Homo sapiens: one gene and its partners. The protein of the gene in region 3 purifies or fractionates together with the protein of the main gene of each other region. This does not show direct contact. Each region holds a gene or a part of one and is shown on either strand. Other genes may lie near its edges.

Evidence for each region.
Region 1: the proteins of PCDHAC1 (region 3) and ATF6 purify together in Homo sapiens (affinity purification with mass spectrometry; 2 studies listed by BioGRID and IntAct, with this or other methods). This does not show direct contact.
Region 2: the proteins of PCDHAC1 (region 3) and DNAJC18 purify together in Homo sapiens (affinity purification with mass spectrometry; 2 studies listed by BioGRID and IntAct, with this or other methods). This does not show direct contact.
Region 4: the proteins of PCDHAC1 (region 3) and LTAP1 purify together in Homo sapiens (affinity purification with mass spectrometry; 2 studies listed by BioGRID and IntAct, with this or other methods). This does not show direct contact.

Annotation. Positions count from the first base shown.
Region 1 is NC_000001.11:161,761,979-161,769,333, forward strand, and holds the start of ATF6 (cyclic AMP-dependent transcription factor ATF-6 alpha), read left to right. Parts: upstream 1-4,341; 5' UTR 4,342-4,382; coding exon 4,383-4,464; intron 4,465-4,470; exon of another isoform or gene 4,471-4,828; intron 4,829-7,049; exon of another isoform or gene 7,050-7,355.
Region 2 is NC_000005.10:139,415,502-139,422,525, forward strand, and holds part of DNAJC18 (dnaJ homolog subfamily C member 18), read right to left. Parts: intron 4,725-7,024; coding exon 4,552-4,724; intron 3,092-4,551; exon of another isoform or gene 2,501-3,091; intron 2,216-2,500; exon of another isoform or gene 2,094-2,215; intron 1-2,093.
Region 3 is NC_000005.10:140,978,289-140,985,312, forward strand, and holds part of PCDHAC1 (protocadherin alpha-C1 isoform 1 precursor), read left to right. Parts: intron 1-660; coding exon 661-719; intron 720-4,186; coding exon 4,187-4,275; intron 4,276-7,024. Other genes in the region: PCDHA1 (protocadherin alpha-1 isoform 1 precursor), read left to right, coding at 661-719, 4,187-4,275; PCDHA2 (protocadherin alpha-2 isoform 1 precursor), read left to right, coding at 661-719, 4,187-4,275; PCDHA3 (protocadherin alpha-3 isoform 1 precursor), read left to right, coding at 661-719, 4,187-4,275; PCDHA4 (protocadherin alpha-4 isoform 1 precursor), read left to right, coding at 661-719, 4,187-4,275; PCDHA5 (protocadherin alpha-5 isoform 1 precursor), read left to right, coding at 661-719, 4,187-4,275; PCDHA6 (protocadherin alpha-6 isoform 1 precursor), read left to right, coding at 661-719, 4,187-4,275; PCDHA7 (protocadherin alpha-7 isoform 1 precursor), read left to right, coding at 661-719, 4,187-4,275; PCDHA8 (protocadherin alpha-8 isoform 1 precursor), read left to right, coding at 661-719, 4,187-4,275; PCDHA9 (protocadherin alpha-9 isoform 1 precursor), read left to right, coding at 661-719, 4,187-4,275; PCDHA10 (protocadherin alpha-10 isoform 1 precursor), read left to right, coding at 661-719, 4,187-4,275; and 4 more. UniProt on the Homo sapiens protein: Potential calcium-dependent cell-adhesion protein. May be involved in the establishment and maintenance of specific neuronal connections in the brain.
Region 4 is NC_000001.11:154,217,591-154,224,944, forward strand, and holds the start of LTAP1 (protein C1orf43), read right to left. Parts: upstream 3,001-7,354; 5' UTR 2,818-3,000; coding exon 2,752-2,817; intron 2,655-2,751; exon of another isoform or gene 2,582-2,654; intron 2,348-2,581; coding exon 2,246-2,347; intron 1-2,245. UniProt on the Homo sapiens protein: General regulator of phagocytosis. Required to uptake Gram negative bacterium by macrophages.

The DNA of each region.
Region 1 (7,355 bases), on a different chromosome or scaffold from region 3:
CCTTGAACACCTGGGTTCAAGCAATCCTCCTGCCTCAGCCTCTCAAGAAGCTGGGATTACAGGTGTGTACCACTGTTCCTGGCACAGACAAAATACTAGAATAACAGAATTCAACAAGGTTTTTGGTACAAGATTGCTGTACAAAAATCCACAGTGTTGCTATACCCCAATAATAGCCAAATAGAAAAAAAAAGATGTGAAAAACAAAACTATAAAACTATGAAAATGAAAATGAAAATCTTAGTGACCTCAGGAGAGGGAAGGATTTCTTAAGAAAGCTACAAGTCAGCTATCATAACAACAGATTGATAAATTTGACTACATTGAAATTAAAATCTAGAGAACAAATCACCGTAAACAAAGACGACAAGTGTCAACCTGGGAGAAGGTATTTATAACATATACCAAGCGTTAACTTAAAAAAGCCCAACAATGGGCTGGGTGCGGTGGCTCATGCCTGTAATCCCAGCACTTTGGGAGGCTGAGGCAGAAGGATAGCTTGAGCCTAGGAGTTTGAGACCAGCCCGGGCAACAAAGCGAGACTCTGTCTCTCTCTCTCTTTTAAAAATGTATATATTAAAAAGCCCCACAATGAATAAATTTAGAAAAGAAGGGGAGACTTTATGGCCTGCAAGGTGGCCATCCTGCAGGCTGGGAAGCGTGCCTCCAGAAACAGGCGCTTTGAAGGAGGAGGGCTTGGAGTGTAGTTCAGGCTGAACAGGTTGGCTAAACCTACATTTTCACCAGGTTACAGGAAGAGCTATGAATATTCATGAAAGTGGTCCTGACACATGCGTATTGAACAAAAACTCATGTAACATATGACCCATATTCACTTTGGGATGGAGACTTAACTTTTTTGTTGTTGTTGTTCAGACGGAGTCTTGCTCTGTCACCCAGGCTGGACTGCAACGATGTGATCTCAGCTCACTGTAACCTCCACTTCCCGGTTTCAAGCGATACTCCTGCCTCAGCCTCCTGAGTAGCTGGGATTACAGGAACCTGCCCCCACGCCTGGCTAATTTTCGTATTTTTAGTAGAGATGGGGTTTCCCCATGTTGGCCAGGCTGGTCTCAAGCTCCTGACCTCGTGATCTTCCCACCTGGGCCTCCCAAAGTGCTGGGATTACAGGCGTGAGCCACCACACCCAGCCAAGACTTAACATTTAAATGTATTACGAGCCCTATACGTCAAAAGGTCTTTCAGGACATGAAGCCATGCAAATGTGCGACCTCTGTAGACCAGCCAGAACCAGTCCATGGCCAGTGGTCTTCTTACCTGGAGAAAGTTACTGAAATCAACAAAAAGTTGTCCAATGAAAGCTGTAGCTATGGCTGGTGGAACGGGGACTGGGGGTCAGTAAGTCAGCATCTCGTGGAGCTGCACATTATTTTAATATTGTTTATCTTTAGGCCAGTACTTGTTTAGCTGCTAGAGAAGAATCTTGTGGCAGTTAGAACACAGTTTATTCTTTAAGTATAGGGGTGTGGGACTAAAACCTTGCCTGGAATGGCTTTAGGTCTTTTTTATAATTTGGCATCTTATTGCCAGAGTCTGTTCTGTCAGTCTTATCATCTCTGTTTTAACATTAATGCTGGCCAGTTGTTGTGTTAAACTACAAAAGGGAGGGAGTATAACAAGGTGTGTCTAACCTGTCCCATCGTGGTCTAGAACTCAGTTTTAAGGTTTTCTAGGATCCCCTTGGCCACAAGGGGGCCTATTCTGTTGGTGGCGGACTTAGGAGTTTAGTTTTACTTTATACAGGTGAATGAATAGAGCAGGCTATCTAATGACGTACACATCATTTGTGAAAGAAAACTCCATAGCAAACTTTATAAAAGGTAAGAGTGGACAGTTCACAGAAGAGGAAATAAGGTTTCATAAGTATGGAAGAATGCACCACTTTGTTAGGGAAATGTAAATTGCAATTTTCACAGCGGTAAAAATGGTAAGAGTCTGACCATATCTTGTGTTGGAGAGAATGTGGAACAAAGAGAACTCATCAATGCTAGTGAGGGTGTAAACTGATAAAATAGTACATACATTATTTAAGACATTCTTGAGGCTGGGTGCGGTGGCTCACGCCTGTAATCTCAACAGTTTGGGAGGCAGAGGCGGGCGGACTGCTTGAATTCAGAAGTTTTGAGACCAGCCTGGGCAACATGGTGAAATCCTGTCTCTACAAAAAATACAAAAATTAGTCGGGTGTGGTGGTGGGTTCCCGTAGTCTCAGCTATTGTGGGGAGAGGCATGAGGATCGCTTAAACCTGGGAGGTCAAGCTGCAGTGAGCTGAGATGGCTCCACTGCAATCCAGCCTAGGGGACAAAGTGAGCCCCTGTCTCAAAAAAAAAAAAAAAAAAAAAAAGAGGGAGAGAGAGAGAGAAATTGAGATTCATTCAAGGAAATACCATGGGTAGATCCTTAATATCCAATAAGAAAAATGATTTGGAGAACATTAAAGTTTACATACATTAAAAAAACCCAAATGACACTAAATGCATGTGTCTATAAACATGTTTAAGCACCGTAAAACTAAAAATAAAAGTGGACTAGAATTACACTTTTATTTTTATAAAATAAAATTTTATACCCATAAAATTCATGGTAGAAGTGGCCTACGCCAAGGGAGGAAAATGAAGCAGGGAGGAAAGAGGAATTCAATTCTGTAGTATTTAATTTCTTATGAAAAATCTGGGACAAAAATGAAAAATGTTAAATTTTTAAATTCTTGGTGATAGGTCACAAATGTTTGTTTCATAATTACTTGCACTTTTTGAATAAAAATAAAATCTTTTGGAAATTAAAAAAATTGGCGATTTGTCATGGTGATTTTCTTAAAAGACTAAGGTGTCTAGTGGGATACAGAAGACTCGATGATTTTATTTTATTTTAGGTTTTTTTTTTTTTTTTTTTTTTGAGACGCAGTCTCGCAATGTCGACCAGGCTGGTGTGCAGTGGTGCGATCTCCGCTCGCTGCAACCTCTGCCTCCCGCGTTCATGCGATTCTCCTGCCTCAGCCTCCCGAGTAGCTGGGATTACAGCTACTTGCCCGCCACCACGCCTGGCTAACTTTTTGTATTTTTAGTGGAGACAGGGTTTCACTATGTTGGCCAGGCTGGTCTCGAACTCCTGACCTCGTGATCCGCCCGCCTCGGCCTCCCAAAGTGCTGGGATTACAGGCGTGAGCCACCGCGCCCGGCCTTATTTTAGTTTTTTATGTCAATTTTTGAATTTGTAATTGGGTGAGAATTAAAGTGTTATAAATTTCACCTTAAGTGAAAATTTATTAGTTTTCTAATGACAAAAGTAGTTACATCTGACGTAAGGGGATTTAATTATCTTTTTCTGGGCTTGCGTCCCGGAACGCTGCTGCATTATGTAATCTGTAGTAATATACCCACGAGCAGTTTGGAGGGTTCTGGGAAGCACATTTGTTTTGCTTACCTACCATGGGAAAGATTCCACGTGGTCCTAGAAGCATACGTATTCGTCGGTTACAGTATTTTAAATATTCACTGGCCGCTGAAATTTAAAATGGATGAAAAAGAAATTCTCTTAAGTAGCGTTCTTGAAACTGCTTTATCAAACTCAGTTCATATTTTCAGTTGGAGTTCGTGATGTATGTGATTTTCCTTTAAATAAAACCCGAATCTTTAGTAATACAAATATTGGGAACTTCGATTACTGTAGGTCTTAGGGTAGACTCGCTTGGACTTTGACTAAATACTATGCTTTAGAAATTTATCTTTAGGAGATAAATTTGGGGGGTTTATCTTTTTATATTTGCTTTGTTTCAATTTATTTAAATAAAAGTAGTCTTTCTAGAAGTATGTTTTATAGTACCACTTACCTCGGTTACTGTCCCAGTTAAGCAGTTTTCACGAATGTGGAAAAATAGTAGTGTTTTTCTTTCATACACGCGTATATGAAAAATTTTTACATTGATAGAGAATTATTCGTAAAAATTAAAGTAAATTTACTGTTAGTCTCTAATTTTGTTCTGAGATAGCCACGCTGTGGCATTAAGAAGGATAATCAAGGAATAAGCCATAATGTTCAGAAAGGGGCTTTACTTTTTATTTTTAATATTATTGATAAACTTTGTTTAGTCGAATTGATGTCTGCGTGTCTTCCCCCGCCTTCCCCATAAAACAGCGGGACAGAAAGTCCTGAAAACTCCAAAAGGGAAATATTTACTCAGAGGTCTATTCAAATTTGCTTAGTCTCTGACGTTTTCCTGTGTCGTACAAATCCCTCGTGCGGCAAAAGTAGTTTGTCTTTACTAGGCCACCGTCTCGTCAGCGTTACGGAGTATTTTGTCCGCCTGCCGCCGCCGTCCCAGATATTAATCACGGAGTTCCAGGGAGAAGGAACTTGTGAAATGGGGGAGCCGGCTGGGGTTGCCGGCACCATGGAGTCACCTTTTAGCCCGGGACTCTTTCACAGGCTGGATGAAGATTGGGGTGAGTGGGATCTGAGAATGTACCAGGGTGGCTCGGGTTCGCGTCTAAAGGTTTCTTCCTCCCTACTTCCGCCCACTCGTGGTGACAGGTGTGGACCAACCCTGCCTGGGGAGTGAGGCCCCTCGTCACTCCTGTTCGTGCCCCTGGAAGAGTCTGGGAGTATCGTTCGGCTTCTGTCCTGGCCACAGGGAGAGTAGAATATTGTCTAACTGGAGTTAACTGTCGTTTTTCACTATTCCCACTGGGGAAGTACCGGGTGATCTTTTTGTGTGGCTAACACTGGACGTCTTTAGGAGGTTTAGAGCAAAATGGCTGGGACCGCCAAAAAGGCTACAAGCTATTTCCTGAGTGTGAAATGTGGGCGGTGAGCACAATGGAGTGGGTTTTTGTGTGTTTGGTGTATATGAGAGAATGTGGTTATATACAAGAAATTCTAATCTTACAGCTTTTACTATTGGTTTAAGCCTGATGTCCGTCTTGGCAGAAAAGCAAAACACCCAAGCACCTGACCTCGGGTCCCTGCTTAGCTACACCTAATACTTATGGTGTAATCCTGACTGCTCTCCAGATACAGCTCTTAATTTTCTTGTTAATGGATATTTTGTTTGGTTTTGGTGGTCAGGAAGGGTGGAATGGGATGAAGTGGAAATGAGAATGAAGAAACTTTGTTATCTAAGTATTTAGAGGAGACTTTTATTCTCCTCTTGATTGCAAGATATAATAGTAATATTGTTCTTAGGTTCCAATATGAATTTGGGATTGTGTAGGTTCCCAAATGGGCCCGCTAGTGAGCCTACACCACTCATCAGCCTTGGAACTGGGGGGAACCCAGTTTATCTTTCTCCCTTGGATCAGCATTCTCAATAGCAGGAGTGGAAGGAATCTCAACTTTTTATTGAACAAAGTCATTTAATTGTTTCAAGGACAGATGTTCTCTAAAACTATATTCTATTGGAGATTTATTTTAATCCTTGGGTAGATTTTTTAAGAGTTGCTGGAAAACTTAAGATTTTTTATTCCCATTTTCCCAAGCCAAATGCATTAGTGACAGTAACCATTTATTTAGCTCTTTGTGTCAGGGACCCTGTTAAACTCTTGACATGAAGTATTTTGTTTAATCCTACCAACAGTCCAATGAGGTACTGTTTATTTTAGAGATGAGGAAACTGAGGCTAACAGAATTTGTGCTCAGATTCTTAGAGCTAGTTAGTGGCAGAAGAAGGATCAGACCAGGTTTTTCTACCTCCAAAGTCTGTACCCCTAGCATCTATTCTATAATGCTTTCCTAACTCATGTCTACAGATTTTATTCTTCCTAAGATCCCTGGTTATTAATAAGACTACTTGAATATATTGGGTAGTTATGATTTATTTTGTCAGCTAGTCAGCTATTATATTTTCATGACATTTCTTTTCTTTACCTCTTTTTTTGAGATGGAGTTTCGCTTTTGTTGCCCAGGCTAGAGTGTAATGGCGCAATCTTGGCTCACCGCAACCTCCGCCACTCGGGTTTGAGCGATTCTCCTGCCTCAGCCTCCCGAGTAGCTGGGATTACAGGCATGCACCACCACGCCCGGCTAATTTTGTATTTTTAGTAGAGACGAGGTTTCTCCATGTTGGTTAGGCTGGTCTGGAGCTCTGGACCTCAGGTGATCCGCCCACCTCGGCCTCCCAAAGTGCTGGGATTACGGGTGTGAGCCACTGTGCCCGGCCAGTGACATTTCTTAAAGTATAACTGTGGGACACTTCCTGGTAGCATAATTTTATGTCGTCTTCTGATACCCAGGCTGCATTTTCCAGACTTATCTGATCACTTGACTTAATGTTCTCTAACAGAGCATTCAGTTCTTTGTAGTCAGTTCACCGACTCACTTCTATCGGGTATCCTGCCCTGTCCCTCCCTGAATGTGCCCATTTCCATTGTTTTCCAGGTTTCCCTTTTCAAACTGTTAACAGTCTTCTCTTCTTTGAAGACTTTAATTTAATTCCTTAGGTGTTCAGTAAGTAGGATAGATTTTGTTGGCAATAGAGTGAAACACTACTGTCTGATAGTGTTTCGTTCTGTGACAGTTGCTGTTTTGGATGTTCAAGTACTTCACTGATTTACTTGATTTTGTTGTTGTTGTTGTTGTTTCTTTTAGAGACAGGGTCTTGCTCTGTCGCCCAGGCTGGAGTGCGGTGATGCAATCATAGTTCACTGTGACCTGGAACTCCTGGGCTCAAGTGATCCTTCCATCTGAGCCTCCTGAGTCGCTAGGACTACAGGTGCACACCGCTACCATGCCTGGTTAATTTTTAATTTTTGAATTTTTTGTAGAGACAGGGGTCTTGCTGTGTTGCCCAGACTGGTCTCCAACTGGCCTCAGTCATCCTGCCTCAACCTCCCAGGTGATGGGATTACAGGCTCAAGCCACTGTGTCTAGCCTTGATTTTTTTTTAATATTAGACACTATCTAGTTAAAATTTAAAAATCAGATTATGTAATTAGTATGTCCTGTGATTTTAACAACTCTAAATAATTTAAATAAAGTGATTAACTCAGAACAGCCTGTGAGGGATGTGCTTTCCTTTTTCTTTTTAACTTAGGTAATGAAATTTAGAGCAAGAGTCTTCAAACATTTTCTGTAAAGGTTCAGATAGTAAATATTTTAGGCTTTGTGATTACATGGTCACTGTTGCAACTACTCAAGTCTGCTGTGATAGTGCAGGAGCAGCCAGAGACAGCATAAACAAGTGAGCATGGCTGTGTTTCTATAAAGCTTTATAGACACTGAAATTTGAATTTCACATAATTATTTTAAATAATAAGCCTACTTTTTTAGTATAATTATAGATTTACACAATAATTGAGCAGATAGTACAAAGAGTCCACATACTTCCCCTTCATCCCCA
Region 2 (7,024 bases), 1.6 Mb from region 3:
TGCTTGGCAAGCAGTGGGTCTCCCAGGCTCCAGAACAATGCGCTCTCCCTGCTTGGTGAGGGTGCCTGCAGCGCCTGCTAGCCAGGGCTTGCCTTGGCACAGTCACCCTTGCAGGTGATGGGGCGTCATGGAGGATCATGGGCCATATCCAAATGAAAGCTCTCTGCTCCTGCATCCTGCCCAGGGCTCGGCACTAACTCCAATCTCAGGCTACTTTGGCATGTGGGTAACCTTGCCCAGGAGGCCTCTGTGAAGTCAGTCTATGCCTTTAGTCCTCTGGAGTCACAGTTACACCAGTATTGAAACAGATTCTGTGGTTTTGCTTTTCTTTGAAATGATTTCCTCAGGTTTTCCATTTGCTCAGCTTTTCTAAATGCTTCATTCCCTGAAATCTTGTTCCAGGAAACATTAAGGGCTAGTGACTCTTTATATTTTCTACATTGAAGGCCACTTCAACAAGCTGATGAAAGATAACTGCTTTTCTCAAAATATCACATTGCTTTTCATAAAGTTCACTGAAACCAGCTCAGAGACCCCTGCTCCAGAGCAATGACCTTGTACAAGGTCAGTGTTTCAAGGAATCATGTCCCACATCCCCACTACCAAGCTTAAAGCAACTTCTCTCCAAACTGCCAGTGAATCCTTTCATCCTTCAATGAACAAAGGGTCAACTTGAAGAATATGCTACTTTTGACAAATTCTGTTAATATTCAATAAATTCTAAGTAATTAAAAAAAATTTTGGGGAGTGGCAGGTTCCAGAGAATACCTTTTCTTCTTAGCAGAAAGTTCCCCTTCCTCTGAATGCCACTGTAACAGATGGACAGAGCATTGAGCCTTAAAGATAAACTGACTCAGGCAAATTGCCAAGAGAAGCAAGACCCAGAACCTCTCCTAAGGTTCTCTGCAAAAGAGCCCAGATTGGTCTCAACAGCTGAAAGACCGCAACAGATCCCAACTGCCCTCATGATCCAGCCCCATGAGATGGTGCTACATCCAGTCTACAGTGCAAAGCCAGGTAAAGCCAGGACTCCACCAGAAATTAGGCACTTTCTATGTGCCAGACACTGTGCTAAGAGTTACACCCATACCATCTTCCATAACCCACACAACCTCTCTAGGAGGAAGTGGATTCTATCCCCATTTCAAAGCCTAAGCTTCTACCCACTAGGTTATCCTGCTCAAGGGTGTGGAAAGAAGTGCTCCTCTACCAGTCTGGGCCAGGAGCTCAGCTCAGCTCAGCTAGGCCAAGAGGCAGTTCCTGCCTGCTACCTTCGTCCAGCCCAGCCTAGTGGTGTGGCCACTTGCCCTGGCATCAGGCTTACTATCTAGATGCAGCTGCGAAGAAGTAAACAGGACAATTAGTGTTTATAGTAAGGGATTACTCATAAAGGTTTGCCCAGATTGGCCGGGTGTGGTGGCTCACGCCTGTAATCCCAGCACTTCGGAGGCCGAGGTGGGCGGATTACCTGAGGTCAGGAGTTCGAGACCAGCCTGACCAACATCCTTGAAACCCCGTCTCTACTAAAAACTACAAAAATTAGCCAGGCACGGTGGCATGCACCTATAGTCCCAACTACTCAGGAGGCTGAGGCAGGAGAATCGCTTGAACCTGGGAGGTGGAGGTTGCAGTGCGCCGAGATTGCATGACTGCACTCCAGCCTGAGCGAGAGAGCGAGACTCTGTCAAAAAAAAAAAAAAAAAAAATTTTCACCCAGATTAAACATTCTAAGGAAGAGCAGAGAAAAATAAATGAACCAAACAAAGATTTAAAAAGTCAATGGCTAACCTTGCTAAAAACAGTTTGCATTTGGTATTTTGCCAAGAGTGAACTTTGTTCTCAAGTGGGTTTATTTTTACAACCTCCAAGTGCTAAATTTAACCTTGTTGGCTGCACTTGCTGCTGGATTCGGAGGGCAGATGCTGCTTGTTCTCAAATGGCACTTGGGTTGTGTGGAGGCTCTGCATAGCCGCTGTACTTAAATGCCAGAAATAGATTTTTAAGGGGTTTGTGCTGATAACTGCCATTTGGAACTTGTGGGTACACGCATCATGCTTACTCACTGGATTTTTTTTTTTTTTTTTTTTTTTTAGATGGAGTCTCGCTCTGTCACCCAGGCTGAAGTGCAGTGGCACGATCTCAGCAGACTGCAACCTCCGCCTCCCGGGTTCAAGAGATTCTCCTGCCTCAGCCTCCCAAGTAGCTGGAATTACAGGTGCGCACCACCACACCCAGCTAATTTTTGTATTTTTAGTAGAGAAGGGGTTTCGCCATGTTGGCCAGGTTGGTCTCGAACTCCGGACCTCAGGTGATCCATCCTCCTTGGCCTCCCAAAGTGCTGGGATTACAGGCATGAGCCACCACACCTGGCCACTCACTGGATTTTTATTTATACCTGGAGAGTGCCGAAGCTCTGAACTAGGCCTCATGGGGATGGGGACAAAAGCTGAGAAACTACCTCTGGTGCAATCCTTACCATGAGCTCTTTGTATAATTCCAGCATCTTACTGCCACAGAGGAAGATGTGGGGCAGGCGGGTGTTTGAAGAATGTGAAATGCAGATTTTCATCCAGTTCTTGCAGAAAGCAACAAAGTCAAAGCCCTCCCAGGACCCAGACAATGGGGATTTTCAGGACATACACTGGCTTTCACCTGATTTGGATCCATGTATATACTGCCTTTTTATTGAGACAGGATCTCGCTCTGTGGCCCAGGCTGGAGTGCAGTGGAGTGATCACAGCTCACTGCAGCCTTGATCTCCCAGGCTCGACCTCCTGAGTAGCTGAAACCACAGGCATGTGCTGCCACACCTGGCTTATTTTTATACTTTTTCTAGAGATGGGGTTCCCAGGCTGGTCTCAAACTCCTGGACTCAAGTGATCCTCCTGCCTCGGCCTCCCAAAGTGCTAGGACTATAGGCATGAGCTACCATGCCTGGCCTATATACTGCCTTTTAATATGAGGCCTTTATCCTGCTCTAAAATTCTTTCCTGATTTTTGATTCTTGTAAAATCTAGTTTAGCAATGGGGTAGAGTATTTCCTGAATCCTCAGTGTTTTTCAATAAATTGGAATTTCCTCTTCCTGTTTAATTTCCTCTTATATCCCAGAGTCATTGCTCACCAACTTCCTAATGCACCTTGAGAGAACATTAGGACTTTGCCGTACAGAAATAGGGGGCAGAGACCAGGTCCCTAAGGGTGAGCTAGGACACTAACCCTGCTGTTGTTATTCACAATCCTCAGCATTTTCATTGTTTTCTACTCCTGAGAATCCTCTCTTCAAAAGACATTTGTTGAGCACTTGTTCTGAAGCAAGGACTGTGCCAGAACCCTGGGACACAAAATTAGTAAGACCAAGTTCTTATTCCCAGACAGTCCATAGTCTTGCAGGGGAGACTGACATATATCCCTGGAACTCTAACACTGTGTGATTGGTACTATGTTAGCAGGCTGAACAAAGTGCTTTAAGAACACAGAGGAAGGAGAGCTTAACTTGAGGGCGGGGTTGGGAGTGTGTGATGGTCAATGAGGGCTTAGCAGCACTGTGACTGAAGAGCTAATTTTATCAGACTCCATTAGGTATTTAATGATACTCAGTAATAAGGCTTTAGAAATGAGTCAGAATTTGCTTTTTAAACATGAGCCAAAACTTCAGTTAAAAGGGTACCTCCTGAAAAATAAAAAAGAAAATAAAAATAATCAAAACCAAGTTTTAGAAGACACAGTCACTAACGCGGTATGTGTGTGTAGAATTCAAGTGGGACCAAAGGTGAAGCTGTTGGCTGAGACGGGGCTACCCCTGCTGCAGACACTCCTAGTAACACTTGCTGGAGCTGTAAGCCAGTGGCAGATGCTATCATCCCCACTGTCTCCAGAGAGGGAAATAGGGGGGAAGGCCTGCCACACCCAAAGGGGCAGACCCAAGGGGTCGCTTTTGTTCTGTGTGGCCACAACCAGCTGGAGGTGAGGGTAGGGGACACCTCATTCCATACCAGAAACCTCTAAACCTTTGTTCTGTTTCAAAAAGTTAGGCTGGCTCGATCAGATTTCCCTCTAGGGAGTGTGGAATTGGGAAACTGTGGACCAAATCAGCGAGCACCAAGAACTTACAGACGTGTGTGCTGCAGAAAGGGGCACTGACTGGTGAGACTGGGGAATTTGAGAGAGTGATAAGCAGGGTGGCAACCACTGTAAACCATGGCAAACAAGGTTATGCAAAAGGGAAGCTGGAAGAAAGAAAGGAAGGCAGCTGGTGGGGAGAGGAGAGGGGGCAGATTGGCAGAGAGAGGTAGAGACTCAAAGAGAGACAGACATACAGACAGGTGACTAGTGCCGCCTAAATTCCTAAGATTTCCAAGTCCTGGCCACATGTATCCTGTCAATAAATTTCCCCTACTTTTTTATAGTATCCTGAATGGCCTTTGTCCTCTGACTCTGTTCACATAAACATGCGTAGCCTCAAACAAGAAGAGAGGAGGGATCAGGAGGCTGGGGGTGCCTCCTGCTGGGAACCACAGCCACCAGCTAATGCCCCTTTTACAGTATCTTACTTTGTTGTTTCTCCTTCCAACAACTAGTCTGGATATAATCAATGTAATCCTTCTCTATTGTTTTCTCCAAGTCATGCAGAGAAGCTCCTCTGTAGGCCTTGTCAAAGTTTTTATCCACAAAGTAAGGCACCTGCAGGTTCTGAGTTTCTCTAGAAATGGTGTAGCCCAAGGTCCTGAAACAAGGAGAGAGAGGCTCATGTGAGCTCATAATATTTGGCAATATTACTCTTAGCACTGCCCTCACAGATATCATCATCATCATCTGCTCATAGAGCAGAGGCAGATATCATTTTCTAATATACCCAACACTTCTTATTTCCCTAGCAAAGTTGTAAGTATAACATCATCATAATTGTATTATGTAAGCAAGTTCATACTATGAATTCAGCTTCAGCATAGTTTATTCTCTTAAAGGACTCACCTCTCTTATACTGCTCTCTGTGCTAAAAGTAGAATGCTGAATGCTTAAAACAAACAATTTTTACGTTGTGTAGGATCTAGTATGGTACCTGACAGAGTAGGCTATTATAAATGCTGGTTGAATGAACTGATTATGTTATATAGCAAATTATTTACAAAAAAAACAGATAGCTCACACCAACCTAGAAGCAATATTTTGGACATGATAAAAAGTACTTCGCACATAGCTGCTAACTGAGAACTGCAAGAAACTCAGACAAAAGATTTCAATGATGCTTTAGAGCTAACTCTCTGTGGGTCCAAGACATCCAAAGGTATCTGGTGCTTAGCAACATTAATAAGAGTACTGAGCTGACTAATTCTAACCATAAGGAAACATAGAAGGGACCTCAAACTCAAGTTAAAACAATGTGACAGAAATGGTTTTCTTCAAACTGGACAAATTCTACATTAAAGGGGCTATATTTTATTTGGCCTTTTTCCGGCCCTCTCCTTTGATCCTCTCTAATTAGAGTAAGAGCTGAAGCCATGACTGCTCTCCCCTCACTCTAAGGTTTTGGGGGAGCTTACAGAGCAGGTCCGTGCTTACCCCGCTGGCCTCACAAGAAAGAAAGCTAAAGTGCCATATGGAAAAACATGAGAAGCTGGGAAACAGAGGGAATCAGGCCAGTGTGGCCTGATGGCAAAAACCTCTCTATGAAGGCTAGGTGCAGTGGCTCATGACGGTAATCCCAGCACTTTGGGAGGCCAAGAAAGGTGGAGGTCAGGCGTTCGAGACCAGCCCAGCCAACATGGTGAAACCCAGTCTCTACTAAAAAATACAAAAATTAGCCAGGTGTGGTGGCACATGCTTATAATCCCAGCTACTCAGGAGGCTGAGGCATGAGAATCGCTTGAACCTGGGAGAAGGGGATTACAGTGAGCCAAGATTGCACCACTGCACTTCAGCCTGGGAGCCTGGGTGACAGAGCAAGACTGCTTCGAAAACAAAAACAATAAAAAGAAACCTCTCTTTCAGCCTCAGCTTCGCTCTCTGTAAAAGGAAAATACTAGCCGGGCGCGATGGCTCATGCCTGTAATCCCAGCACTTTGGGAGGCCAAGGTGGGCAGATCACCTGAGGTTAGGAGTTTGAGACCAGCCTGGCCAACATAGTGAAACCCTGTCTCTACTAAAATATAAAAATTATCCGGGTGTGGTGGTGCGTGCCGCCTGTAATTCCAGCTACTCAGGAGGCTGAGGCACATGAATTCCTTGAACCAGGGATGTGGAGGTTGAAGTGAGCCCAGATTGCACCACTGCACTCCAGCCCAGGCGACAGAGTGAGACTCTGTCTCAAAAAACAAAAACAAACAAAAAAGGAAATACTGACCTGGATTGACCTGGAATGATGGTCTTGTCTACAGTGATCACTGACAAAGACTCTTCCTGTTATATATTGTCTAATAAATTCTACTTTTAAAAGGTTTTTTTCCCACTAAATTATAATAATGAATAATAATTTATTATTCATTATTAACAAAAAAGATAATCTAGTGATTCTCAAACTTCAGTGTGGACCAGAATAATCTAGAGGGTTTTTTAAAACTCAGACTTCTGGTCCTACCCCCAGAGCCTCTAATTCAATGGATATGGAGGGGCCCTAGAATCTGCCTTTCTAACATGTTGCCTGTTGATGCTGACGATGGCTGGTCTGGGGACCAAACTTTGGGAACTGAATCAACTGAAAGAATTAATTGAAGAAATTTTTAAAAATCCTATCAGAGTTTATAATCTATACGCAAAAAGCATTACAAGGAATTTCTCTATTTTCAACAAAAACAAAAAAATTGAAAATAATCACTTGATCCCCATTATTAATACTATGCTCCGAGACCCACAGGGTCCAGCAATCCTATCAACAGCTTAACAGAGTCTTTCTAACTCTACCATGGTGTGATAATGAGTTCATCTAAACCTTAAATTCTACTGATCCTTCAAAAACCAGTTACTGCTGTTCTGCAGCTGACCAGATGATGTCACTATAGAACAAGACAATCTATTTCCCGAGGCACA
Region 3 (7,024 bases):
AGGGAAAGCACTCAGGAAGGAGCAGGAACAAGTACAAGTTTATGAAAAGGATTAGCTAGCAAAACAAGGTCAAACTCTGCAATAGTTTGTTTTCCTCTCCCTAGTATCCCTCTTCAATCAGAAAAGAGACTGTTATCAGTTGCTGGTGTTATGACTGGGCACATCCGCCCTGGGTCAAATATGCTGCAGTCTGCAAAGCCAGCAGCAGATTGCAGTCCTCTGCAGTCCAGCCAGGCCAGCAGAACTTGTGTAGCCATGTGCCCTGTTATAGCTGTAATACTGAATTGGGAATGTTCCCTTAATGGGGCACTTGAGGGCAAAAGCAGTGAAAGCTTTTCCTTTCTCAAAGCAGACTGTTCTTCCCGTAGTGTTTTAAGAACACAGACATGTATTGGGCAAGGCAAAGCCAAAGGTGGCCTTTACAAGATTATTAAATCTGGTCTTCCAGGGTATCTAATCTGTGTGAGGACCCTGATGAACTAATTTTCTTCTAAAGTGCTATATATGTAGATATCATCATAGAGTTACACATGAAATGGCTCATTCAATACTTTTTTAGATGCCTGGAAATATTTAAGGGAGTAACTAATCAATTAGCAGCATTCCTGGGAGAACATTGTCTTGTCATTTTAACAGAAAACTCTCTTTGTGATTTTGCAGCCACGACAGCCCAACCCTGACTGGCGTTACTCTGCCTCCCTGAGAGCAGGCATGCACAGGTATGTATTTCCCTCCTCATTCACTCAGAAGTAACCTTAACTTGGTATGGCTCAGATAAACTGCATCTCCATAGGCCAGAAGCAGCTGTCAAAACTAAAAAGCTTTAGGTACTTTGCCAGGAAAATGCAATTATTTTGTCCCCATGTTTATTCCTTGAAAGATCGCAAATGGTCAGTGCCAGATGCTTATCAAGTGCTGGCATATAAGAGTCCTCTGTAAAATCACAGAAACAGGCTGCTATGTATTTTCTCCCATCAAAATTTCTACAGGGAAGTAATTTCAACCTCCTTCATCCCTCTCTACCTATGCTTTCTTTTCCTCCTTTAAAAACTGTAATTAATACTCATGCTTTGAGACTTGGGTACATTGTGCAATGTATACATACATGTTGTCTACCTTGTTTTTTTTTTAATCTCACATTGGCTATTACATCCTATTACCCTCAATAATTGATTGCTATTGTTGTTTGTGTTCACACCTATTAGAGCCTCCTCATCTTTCCCATCTGTTGCTATCTTATTGTCATCAATGACATGGTTCTTCAGAAGATGAGCCATGTAAAGGGCTCCAAATCTAGCTTACTTTAAATTAACCTAGAGTAACGGTATTAGTCTAAGACTCAGATTAAATATAATTTTGCTTTCTCTACTTTGTCTCTCTGACAGTAATTGATTAACTACCATTATTTCTGGAGGTGATCCAGTATCCATGCCATGGGGCCAAATAAAAGATTCATTATTTGCGAATGTCTTTGGAAACCAAATGGGAAGGACCAAGAAACAAATGATCACAACTATCAAAAGGATTTAATTTTAAAGAAGAAATAATCTTCAAACTTAAGCCCCTCAAAATATCTGGGCAACTATCAAGTGAATATTCACCAAACTTAGATCAGTTCGTAAAGAGAAAGCCTACAAAGTATGTGTAGAGTTAATGTGAAATTAGTTTTAGCCCATTAAAATGCATTAGATTGAAATAAATTAACATACTCTCAAGCATTACAAATGAGCAGAAATCATTACATTGGGTGCTATTTCTGATTCAGAAGCAATCAGTGAAGGGCTGAAGATTAGTAGTTGGCTTGGTAAGATGTCACATTGGAACCTGGGTCATAATTTTAGGCCAGAAACATTCATGCATATACCAGAATATTAGGTATCAGAAGAAATTCTTTATATTTATTAGAGACCAACTTGTGCTTTTGCCTGCATCTGAGCTGTTGGTGGAGACATGCAATGGGTAAAAGCATGGTTTACAGTACCAACTCTTGAAAAGTACCAAAGCTATGAGTTGTGCCTTAAAAACTACATTTGAAATAAAACATTAAAACATAACTTCCTGGACTGGGCGCGGTGGCTCACACCTGTAATCCCAGCACTTTGGGAGGCCGAGGTGGGCAGATCATGAGGTCAAGAGATCGAGACCATCCTGGACAACACGGTGAAACCCTGTCTCTACTAAAAATACAAAAATTAGCTGGGCGTGATGGCATGTGCCTGTAGTTCCAGCTACTAGGGAGGCTGAGGCAGGAGAATCGCTTGAACCCGGGAGGCGGAAGTTGCAGTGAGCCAAGATCGAGCCACTGCACTCCAGCCTGGCGACAGTGCGAGACTCTGTCTCAGAAGAATAAATAAATGAATAAAATAACATAACTTCCTTATCCCATTTTCAAATTGAAAAAAAAAAGCCAAATGTGCTCCTATTCGGGTTTCAATTAAGATATTATGAGATTTGAGTAGGGTAAGAAATAAAATAAAAATTGAAATTAAAATGCCATTTCTTTTTTGCATTGTAATACATTGAACATATTAAATGAGTTGTGAACCTAAATAATACTAATCTTTTTCGTATGTGTGCTTGGGTGTTCTCGGTCTTTCCAGTCTTGGACATCATGTAACTATTCTTTAAAAAATTCTGCTTTGAGCTGAGCTGGCTCCAGGATAGTTACACCTTCATGAATCTGACTGAGCCCACACAATTTGCTAGTAGGATCCAGGAACACTTGAAGGCTGTTAATATTTGGGGAAAAAAAACAGATAATTCTAGAGTGTAGACAAGGGGAAGAATAGTAAAAGGTCAGAGTTTAATGAGTGAATTTCTACTGGATATGTTGTTTGAAGTCAAAGAGTGAGAAAACATTGAACTTATATGTTGCCTTCCCTCTAATAGTTCAAGTTTGCCTGCTCTGTTGCCTCATATAACCCCTTTAGTCAGTAGTCTAAATTTTATTTTAGAAATTTAACTTTCAAGATAAGCAAATGTCTAGTTTAAAAGGGTCCTCTAGTCTAGGTGTAGTGGCTCATGCCTGTAATCCCAGCACTTTGGGAGGGTGAGGCAGGTGGATCACTTGAGGTCAGGAGTTCAAGACCAGCCTGGTCAATATGGTGAAAACCTGTCTCTACTAAAAATACAAAAATGAGCCAGGCATGGTGGCGGGTGCCTGTAGTCCCAGCTACTTGGGAGGCTGAGGCAGGAGAATTGCTTGAACCTGGGAGGCAGAGGTTGCAGTGAGCTGAGATCGTGCCACTGTACTCCAGCCTGAGTGACAGAGTGAGGCTTTGTCTCAAAAATAAATAAAATAAAACAAAATGTTCCTCTAATTTTGATGAGGGTTTTCTTGGACATTTTCTCTTAGGATCCCACTTATTTCTTCCTTCCTTTCTTCCTTCCTCCCTTCCATCATTCATTCATTCATTCATTCATTCATCCAACAAATATTTGAGAGATTAATATGAGTTAGTATTAGACATACATAAATGAATACTGCACCATGTTCTCTTTTCCCTTGAACAGTTTATGTTCTATCTCTGCTTGCCTCTAAAGGTCTCCCAGTTTGTATCTCACTCCCAGCAATGTTTTATGCTGAATTAATCTCTTCTGAGCGGGGATCTGTGAGTGGTGGTGATCAAGTTTCTCTAGTCTCAGGAAATATAGGGTGGGTCATCTATGCATAAAAGATATAGAAAGAGTAAAATAGAAAATAAGGTTAAGAATTAATTAGATAGCCAAATTGGAACAATACTCCAATTATCAGAAAATATTTTAGTGTGTTTTCTTCTTTAGAGTAGAGAACCTAGGAACAAGAGAACCTGCAAGAGAGGCTTGGAACTTTTGAGAACAAGCCCTCCTCATCTGCTTCAGTATCGAGATGTTAAAATGGCTTAGTCCTCTGATGGGCTTCCTGTTAGATTTAGTGAGCGCCACATGGCGTTAATAAAAAACAGAATTGCCATAAAGATAGAACATGTGTGTTCCTGGAATAGTATAGCAGGCAATAAGTAAGTCAGCAATGCTTCTGCAGTTTATGCAGGGTGACTGCTCAGCAGTAATTGCTTCAGTTCAAGCATGAGCAGAATGTGTTAGCTGCAGCCCTGGCTTCATAGTTGTAAGCAATTTCTGAGGGTGGAAGAAGAGATGGGAAAGAATTTATGATCTAACCGTTATCTGGGTCTGTGTGTTTATTCAGCTCTGTGCACCTAGAGGAGGCTGGCATTCTACGGGCTGGTCCAGGAGGGCCTGATCAGCAGTGGCCAACAGTATCCAGTGCAACACCAGGTAAAGAGCTGGGGTCTCTCCATTCTTTCTTGGTTTCTGGAAAGTGATCAGATGACCTACTTTTGTAAGATCAGGAATGTTGATGGCTCTTTTTCTTTTATATTTTTGTTATTCCCTTTTTTCCATACATACATGATTTCCTTACATATATGATTATTTTGATTTTATACCTAATGCTCTTCAGGAGTTGAAAAAGGATAACAAGGAAAGTGTGTGTGCACGCATGTGTGCATGTGTGTGTGTGTGTATGAAGTTTTTGGGGTTTGTTTGTTTGTTTAAATCAGGTACCTTTCAAATGCTTAGGTCATCCAAGCCATGCAGAGAAGATCTGGTGGCCTTATGCACAGAGATGACACTGTTAACAAAGATCTTTTGGTTGAAGACTATGGAAACCCACCCAAAGTAGTAAGGAAAGAAAGAGAAAAAGAAGGAAAGAAAGAAAAAGGAAGGAAGGAAGGAAGATGGTTTCTCATGGAAGTGGAAAATTATCGGAACCAAGGCATTGTTTTGAGTTCAAGTCAAAGTCAATCTGCTTCTCTCTGCACATCAACAACATTCTGCAGACTGACTTTTAGTGCCTTGGCATGCATGTTGCCAAACATGACCGCCTCACAATTTCTTAGTTTAGAGGGATAATAGGGACTATTTCCTAATCCAAACTTTCAGGAAAGAGAACCTGCTAAGTTGTGTAAAAAACCTAATGGCTGGGTGAGTATAGGAAAATTGCTTAAACTCACATTTGCTTGGTATCCTTATTCTTGCCCTATCACTAAAGCAGGGTCATGTAATAGAAATATGGCTTTGGAGGCCCATCGCTGTGGCAGTTTTCAGAAAGGGAAGATTAAGTGTTGGTAGAGACCACAAATTGTGTCTACTCTAATCCTCTATTAATAGAACATCATGATGATAATAGTAGTTACTAATTATTAAGCCATAATATGCCTAGACACTGTGCCAAGTACATTGTATGTGTGGTCTCATTTATTCCTTAAGTCAAGCTTGCAAGGGATTTATTACATCTATTCTACATATGAGAAACTGGAGAGGCAGAGAGATTAAGAAATGTACCCAAGTTCACGTAGCTTGTAAGTGGCAGAGGGTAGGATTCAAACCCAGATGTGTTTAGTTTCAAATCCAAGTATATCTAGCACTTATATTCATAACATGGCTGGCTTGCAATAATCCATTCAAATTCAAATACATATCTACATACATAACAGATGACAGAATGTGTGTGTAAAAGGTTTTTTCCCAAAAATAATCAGATGCCTTTCAAATTATTAAGTAACATGCAGCTAAGGGCCCATTTTTACTGGCAACTTTAAGGGCATTCGTTGATTCTAATCAGCCAGGATTTGCTATTTATGGATGTTGCACAATTCAACTAAAAGTCACATTTGTCCAAAAAATATACGAGTTGAAGCAATTCATTAGAGAGCTAATATTGCCAGATTGCAAGGGGAAAAACATAAAATAGTTCATTGACAAATCTGTACCCTCAGTGCCAACGATGGAGTGAAGAAATGATGGAGGAGGAAGTGGTTTTAGACTGCCAAGTGTTGCAGGATGTGGAGGCATCTGGGAAGGTGAGAACTTCCCAAAGAAGCCACGTGAAATCATGACTTTCTACCTTGCCTTTATTTCAGAGTTTTTCTTGCTCTTATGGAGGCATTGTAGGTCGACCTGGTAAGCCACAAACTAACTTTGAATACATTCTCCCTCCCATTGGTGATGCTGGTTGGTGTGTATTCCTAGGCAAATGTGGAATAGGAACCATGTATTGATATTTCATACATCTGGCCAAGTCCCTCTTTCAGATTCAAAAAATGTTGAGAACCTATCTTTTTTACAGAGATAGAGAAGGGGATCTCCCTTGTTCCCTTTCTTACTGTCCCAGCCCCTCTTGTATAACCCATTTTATCCAGAACTGTGCCTGGCTGCTGATGCATGAGTCACAGTCTTCATGGACTGTGCTGGATAGAGCTTACATCTTCCAACTACTCCATGGCAACCTAATCATACTTTTCAATACATACCTCTGCATCAGTGGTGTAAAGTTAAAGGGATTCTCTGCCTTCTCCCTGTCCTTCTGGTACTTTTAGGTTTTTAGGACTCAATATATGTTCTGCACTGCTTGGAGGGAATATGGCATAAAGATTAAGATTATGATTTAGAGTCAGATTTGAGTTGAATTCTAATCCCAAGCTTACTTGCTGGGTGAGCATAGACAAACTGCCTGAATTCATATTTTCTTAATTACCCTTTCTGTAAATTGGGTGTAGTAATAATAATAACACCTATTTTATTGAGTTACCATGAGAACTAAAGGAGAAAAAAAGAACTGAGCATAGTGCTTGACATATAGTTAATAAATGTCTAATCTTTTTTTTTTGAGACAGAGTCTCGCTCTGTCCCCCAGGCTGGAGTCCAGTGGCACGATATCGGCTCACAGCAACCTCTGCCTCCTGGGTTCAAGTGATTCTCCTGCCTCAGCCTCCTGAGTAGCTGAGACTACAGGCGTGTGCCACCAAGCCTGGCTAATTTTTTGTGTTTTTAGTAAAGACGGGGTTTCACCGTGTTAGCCAGGATTGTCTCAATCTCCTGACCTCGTAATCCGCCTGCCTCGGTCTCCCAAAGTGTTGGGATTACAGGCGTGAGCCACCGCGCCTGGCCTAATCTTCTTACTCTTTTTTCTTTCTGGACTACTTTTCTGCAATCTATGATATAGTGTTGGCTGATAGCCTGGTGG
Region 4 (7,354 bases), on a different chromosome or scaffold from region 3:
GGTTTGATCTCAGCTTACTACAACCTCTGCCACCTGGGTTCAAGGGATTCTCCTACCTCAGCGTCCCGAGTAGTTAGGATTTTTTTCTTGTATTTTTAGTAGAGATTGGGTTTCACCATGTTGGCTGGTCTGGTCTCGAACTCCTGACCTCAAGTGTTATCTGCCCAACTCGGCCTCCCTAAGTGCTGGGATTACCGGCATGAGCTACCATGCCCGGCCCACTCAGCATGTTTTTGAGATTCATGTTTGCAATTTTTTTCATTCAGAAGTATTTTGAGGACTTGTCTTCATATATTTATCTTCAGTTTTTCATTTTTTACACTATTCCAGAATATGAATATACCACTACCTATTTTTTAGAAACAAGGTCTTGCTCTTGCCCATGCTGGAGTGCATCAGTGCAATCATAGCTCACTGCAGTCTGTAACTCCTGGGCTCACATGATCTTCTGGCCTCAGCCTCCCAAAGTGCTAGGACTACAGGTATGAGCCACTGCACTCAGCCTATATAATAATTGAAAAGTGGACATTTGAATTAAGTTTCTTCTTCAAATATTATGAACAATGCCCCTATAAATAATCTTGCACATGTTTCTTGGTACACATGAGCAAAACTTAATTTCTCTATGGTAGGAGAGAAACTGTTGGACCATGGATTAGGTACATGTGCAATCTTACCAGACAATGACCAGTTATTTTCCAAAGTGGTTTTACTAATTTATACTTTCACTAGCAATGGTTGAGAATTTAGAAAAAATTTTTAAGCAAAAGGAATATTGCTCTGAACTAGACCAAGGGACCCCTGAATAGCCAAAGTATTGATTGGTTCATGATGTGCTAGAAACTAACCCTATGTCTTTCTCATGAGGCAGGCAGGACTGTTAAGGTTTCAAGCCAGGACATCCTCCTAGAGCCTTTTCATGTACTATGTCAGCAAAGAACAAAGAGGGGAAGGTTAATAGCACTTGTTAATGAAAGTACAGTGCTCTAGGAGTTGAGGGAGTCATGAGCTCTAGCTCTACAACTAACCTGTTTTTCATTCAGCAACAAATTACAGAGTACCTGCTATGTGTAGGCCCTGGCACTAACCTGTTTTTCATTCAACAAGAAATTACTGAGTACCTACTATGTGTAGGTCCTGGCTTTATAGTCGTGAACAAAACTGGCATGGTGCCTGCATTCTTGAAGCTTACGGTCTAGCGGAAGAGAGAGGCATGTTTTAAACAAATGGACAAACATAAAAATTATGGTAAATGCTATGAAGGAAAAATCAGGGTACCATGTGAAAATAAAGAGAGGGGGAACCTACTTTAAAATAGGTAATAAGCATTCCTTTTTTGGAAGTAACATTTAAGCTAAGATCAAAAGAATGAATGAGCTAGCCAATTGAAGACCATTCCAGATCACAGGAGCAAAAAGGGTGGAAAATTCAGCCAGTGGAGCTGGGTCCCAGTGATCTGGGGAGAGCCACACAAAAGGGGGTTGGTAAGGGAAGCAGGTGTCTTTTACTTAGAAGCGAAAGACTAAAGAAGCAGAATGAGAGTGGCAGTGGGATAGCAATAATTCTGATTCACAAATGTTGGGTTTGAGATGTCTACTACAAATCTAAGTGGAAATGTCAGGTAATCAGTTGGCAATATATGTAAGGAACTCAGGAAAGAGTTCTAGGATAGAGATAAAATTTCATCTGTAGCTAAAGCCAAGGAAAGGAAGACAGTCACCTAAGGAGAAAGTACAGACAAAGATAAAAGACCACTGGGTTATTCACTTCCTATACGTCTTCTGGTAAACTGCCTCCTTTTCTTGGGCTTCTTGGTAACATGAATGGTGGAATTAGATGATTTATGGAGCTCCTCTTAAGTCTAAAATTATGTAAAGGTAACCCTTCTCATTGCTCTTGGGTTAACCTTAATGATCTCAACCCCATCCTAATCAAACAAAAAACACTGGGTAGTTTAAGATGAGCTGGGAAATATTTTACTACAAACAGTTGGGAACTTCGACCCAAGCCCTTCATTCTGCAGATACAAAAACAGAAGTTCCAGGATGAGCCACATGCTTGCCACAGCACTGAGCAGGTAAGCCAAGTTCCAAAGCGCACAGTGCCTGCTCAACTTAGTAAGTACAAGGACAAGTGCACGCAAAGAAACATGAGAATTAAAGTCATCACTAAAGGCAGAGGAAATCTCATTCTTGACCCTAAAAGATCTGGAGAAGTATGTTTAACTTGTGCCCTAAGGACCTACCTTGGGGGCATTGTGTCCCACAGGGACATGAGGTCCCCTTCGAGATTTCATTGCAAAGCGCATGATTTGCCTCTTCACAAAAATAAATAGCAGTACAAACACCTGTCCAAAAAGATGTAAAAATCCTTTAATAAAAAGTCAGTTTTGTTTTGTTTTTTTTTTAAAAAAGCATGCCTTCATTCCAAATCCCCAGATTCCGGCTCTCAGGAATGTTTCAGGGTAAAACTTGGGGCAAAGCAAGGCCGTTATGATGGGGGTGGATCTAAGAAGCCAGCAGCAGGGAGGCGTGGGGTCTGTGCTCTAGCGTTAAAGGGAGGGTTCTAGACTAACGAGGGCGGGTCGGCCCGACTAAGTGACTTAAACTCCCACCTACTCCTGGAATAAGGAGTCAAAGCCCGGATAGGCGCAGGTGAGTGGGTGGAGAATGCAGACGGGGTACAGCTCAAAAGGAGGGTCTCTACTGGGTAAGATGCGACAGCAGGAATGGGGTGGGGTAATCTCCTCACCAGGCTCCCGTAGGCCATCACCAGCACGACATTCACCCCGGAGAGCCAGTTACTGCCGGACGCCATGGCCTCCCTACCTCGCGCAGAATTGTTCGGGTTTACCCCGCTGTCCTGGCTGGTCAGCCCAGGCTCCGCCGAAGCGACGGCGCCTGGGTCCCCTGGAGCTCCCCGGCCATTTCCTTACGGGGGAAGACCAAGCCAGACCCGGCCTGAAAACATGGCGGACAGGCAGGAGAGCTGGGAAAGGAGAACGACGCCTTCCAGCTTCCCCCTGACACGTGACTCAGGCAGGCAATGGCACCCAGGAGCGTCGAGCGCTCAGACGCGGAACTACGACAGTAAGAGGAAGCGGCGGCCATCCGTGCGTCACGTGGTGGAGGCAGGGCCGCCGTGAAGGAGGCGGGGTGGACTCGCGGAGCCGGAAAGAGGTGTCTCGTGGCGAGGCGGCACGCGCACGCTTGCGTGCGCGCCCCTTTTAGCGTCACGCGCTGAGGGACGCAGGAAGGCAAGTGGGCGGGGGAAGGCGCGAGAGCGAGCGCGAGAGGGAAAAGGAGGGAGGGGGTGGGGAAGAGGGAATCTTATATCACGTGACAGGGGCGGCGCGGCCCGGGGTGTCAGTGTGGAGGAGACTGAGGTAAAGTTGGGAGCGCAGCGGCGTTGGCGGCGGCGGCGGCGGCAGCGGCAGCGCGGCGGGGCCGGGTATTGTCCGCGGCCCCTTTAAATCCGCGATCCCCCTTTTACCCTCCCTCTTTTCTCCCCTGCCCCCGCCGTATCCCCTCCCTCGGTAGGCCCCCCCACACCGTGTGTTCCCCCACTGTACACCCCCCCCCGAGTCATGCGAGCCCTGGCGCCCCCCACCTCGAGTCGGCCCCCGGAGGTTTTGTTTATGGTTGGGTTCGCGGCCTAGTGGGCCGCGCCAGAGCCGGGGCCTCGATTTGGGAGCGTGGCCGGGGCGGGGCTTGGAGCAGCCGTAGGAAGGGGGGGCCATGCGGCTAGAGCCTGAGAGGGGAGAGCGAGAAAGAGCGCGAGCGAGCGAGGCCTGGGCCTTGCCTGAGGTAGGGCTCTCTCTTCACCCCGGCCGGTGCCTGCGGAGGAGAGGGCCTCCTCCCTTTCCACCCACTGCGGGCCTCCTCTGATCCGGATCCGGCCTGGTTTGGGGGTGGCGTGGGGGAGGGAGGGCGATGGGGTGGAGCTCCCCCAAACTCCCCCATGTGGCCCTCAGTTTGGTGTGCGAAGGATTAATTTGTTCCGGCTGGGAGGTAGGGAGGAGATTGGCCCCGTGGGCTCTCGATGTGGCGCTGAGGGGGGTGAGCCTCCCATCCTCCACCCGTGGGCTTGCGTCCCCTCTCCGTTTCCAGGCTCTTTGTCAGCTCCTCTTATTACCCTCCCTTCTTTCTCACCAACCCAGTTCTTGGAATATGTTTTTGCTGCTGTCTTTAGCTTCCTGTTTATACTGTAGTTTGGGTACCCCAAACAATTGTGTTATTTGGGAAGCTGGACATGGAGGCCCCCATAGGGTGTATTTACGCTTAAGGGACGTCACTAGAGCACTGGGGTATTTGTTCACTCTTCTCATAATGGTACAGGAATGCCCAGTTTCTTCAAACCCTTAACCTTGTGGACAGCCCTTAAATTGCTTTGCAAACTGATGTCACAAACTGGAGACTGCTCCTTTTCCACCATTCTTGAAATGTAGCCACCTCTGGTGTAGGATGTTGTGGAAAGAAAAACACCACAGTAACAGGCGTTTTTGTTATTATTGTTAACGTTTTTGCCTTTGACTCTCCCTGATTATTAAATGGAGAAATCCTTTTTTTTTGTCTTCTCTCCCATCCTACCTTCCTCCGCCGCATATCCTGTTTTGGGGATACCTGATGTGACTTGCTGGGAGGTGATGGACATTACTAGTAACCAGCGTTTCTAGAGAATTAAAACATTTTGGCTGTGTATCAGTTGATAAAACTGCTTTGAGATCTGTCTCCATTGTACTTAAAGATTAGACTATCCCAATGATTACAGAGAATTAAAACATTTTGGCTGTGTATCAGTTGATAAAACTGCTTTGAGATCTGACACCATTGTCCTTAAAGATTAGACTATCTCAATGATTGTTTCCTTTGTGAATGGGAAATATTGCTGGCACATAAACTAGTGATGAAAGGCCTAAAAATGTCCTGTTTTGTTTTTCATCTTTAAAGCTCCTCCTTGCTATGTCCTAACTGGGAAGTACTCTTACTAACTAGATATCAAGGTGGTGGGGAAGGGGATGCAGGGGCCATTTCAACAAAGCATCTACAGAAATTAGTTGTTCTGTTAGAGGTAGCAAATTTTACCCAACTCAGTCTAGCTTCAGTTTCTGAATTGTTTCTTAAATTAGATTGTAAGCTCCCTGAGGGCAGCTACTAAGTCATACTGCTTTTGTATTTTCCTGAAGTATTGGACACATAGTAGATTCTCAATAAATATTTGTTATTTAGTTTTTTCAGTGAAATTTCTCTGGCTATTTTTTTAAGTAGCTAGTTTTCAAAAAAGAGTCAAGGGCACTCCTGTGTTGAAACCTCTGTTTACTCTCGCACGATTTCCTTGGTCTCCAATACTTCTCACCCTACTTCCTTTAAATCTTTTTATTTTCTAAGAAAGAGCAAGTAAGTAACAAGATTCTTCATCTCCAGTGTGATAGCTGGGAATGGGTCTGCTTGCTACTAATTCTGTGCCCTCAAGTGATCCATTCCAGATCACTTACTTTTGACCTGTTGCTCAGTGTTGTCACTACTAGGTGGTAAAAATTTTCTTAGTCACATTTCGAAGCACTTGTAAGAGGGAAATGTTACTAGCAAGAGTGATTAGGAGAATTTTTTTCTTTCTTGGTTAATTATATCTTTCAAGATGACTTTTTAATATGTTTACATCTGACTGGTACAGTATATGCAATAGTGTATAGCTAGTCATGCAGTTTATACCTGCAATATAACTTATCCTCACAAATAGATATCACATGTGGAGTAGAAAACAGTCAATATTTGTAAGTTACAGTAGTGGGTTGGAAATGACTATGCCATATTAGAAACTTCATCTTAGAGCCAATTTTAAAACAAAATAGTTTTCCTCTCGTCTTTATATATATACGTATATATGTGTATATGTAGTCTTGTTGATTTGGATTCGGGGTACTTGGTTAAACATTTTTTTTTTTTGTAAAGTTGAAACGACTATAATGCTAACCTGGGAAAATGGGCTACTGTGTAGCAAATAATCCTTTCTAGCTTGAAATACTTATGGGCTTTTGTGTGCCAATATGTGTAGGGGGAAGAGGTAATGGGTTAAAAATTACCTGAGAAGCTACCTTAAAAAAATCTTTCTTGATACAAAGACCTATGCAACCTATTGACGCAACTTGGTGAAGAATTTATGCACAGAAAAAGTCAGCTTTCTCTGTGACATCCAAGAAAGTCAGATGAAATTCACTTCCCTAATAGTTAATCCTTGCATATTTCTTTAGAAGTCCTTCCTCCCACTCAAATCCAGTAATATCTCTGGGCAGTCTAGAATTACGTTGTATAAGGTTTCATTAACAAGAAAAATTAAATATAGAGCAGAAAAGTATAAACTTACCCTCTTTGGAAGGGAATAAATGCAGAGTAACCTATTATTTTGAACACTCTATCATATGATTAATGTTTTCTTTTTTACTAAATGCAGCAGCTGAGATTGTATTATAAAACAAAGTATGAACTAAAGGAACTTGAATTCAGTAGAATCCTTCCTTGTTAGAAGTCTTGTAACAAAAACTATATTCTGGTTTGGGGAAGGCCCTGTGTGTTCTGTGTCTCTTTAAAGACTCAACTAAGTCATCTTGCCAGCATTAAGGTCTCAAGTTTAAAATGATTTCTTAGAAGCACTTTCTTCCAAATAAAACTTTGTGCTAGATGCTTTTGGTTTGAGACAAATTTGAGATTCCCTGTATATTAAGGTGAGTGGTGGAGGGTAATTGCCATTTTGGTTTCTTGAAAATGTGGACTAGGAGACCAAGAGAAGCACCTGTAAAAGCAGTGTGTTGGAATTATTTTCCAGAGAACAGAGATTCTGGACAAAGTCATTGGGGCTAATACGTACCCTGTTGAAGGCTGTGGTTTAAAAAAACAAAAAACCCCCACAAACACAAAACAAACCCATAGCATACTGAGAGAGATGAAACTTGAGGGACAAAGAAGAGTCTAGACTTGAACTTGTCCTTTCCCAAGCAATGGAGGTCACATGCAGCTTACATAAAAAAGGTTGTAAGGCAGGTAAGGCTGTTTTCTTAGGTGATTGAATACAGTATTTAAAATTATTTCTCTGGAGTGTAGACTAATCTCCTTCCTGGAAGGTTTTTGTTTCCAGACTTTACTGATTATCTTTCCTTCTGTCAAAGGTACTTCAGATACTTGCATCTATGTAAAAGGCTTTTGATTATTAGTTAAATGTAAAGTCTGCTTATGGGGGACTAGTAACCAAACTGCTGTAACTTCTTAAAAAAATCCATCACTTACACATGCTTTATACATTTCTTGTTACATAAAAATGGATTAACAGCCATAGCTCCTTAAGGAATTTATCAAGCTAA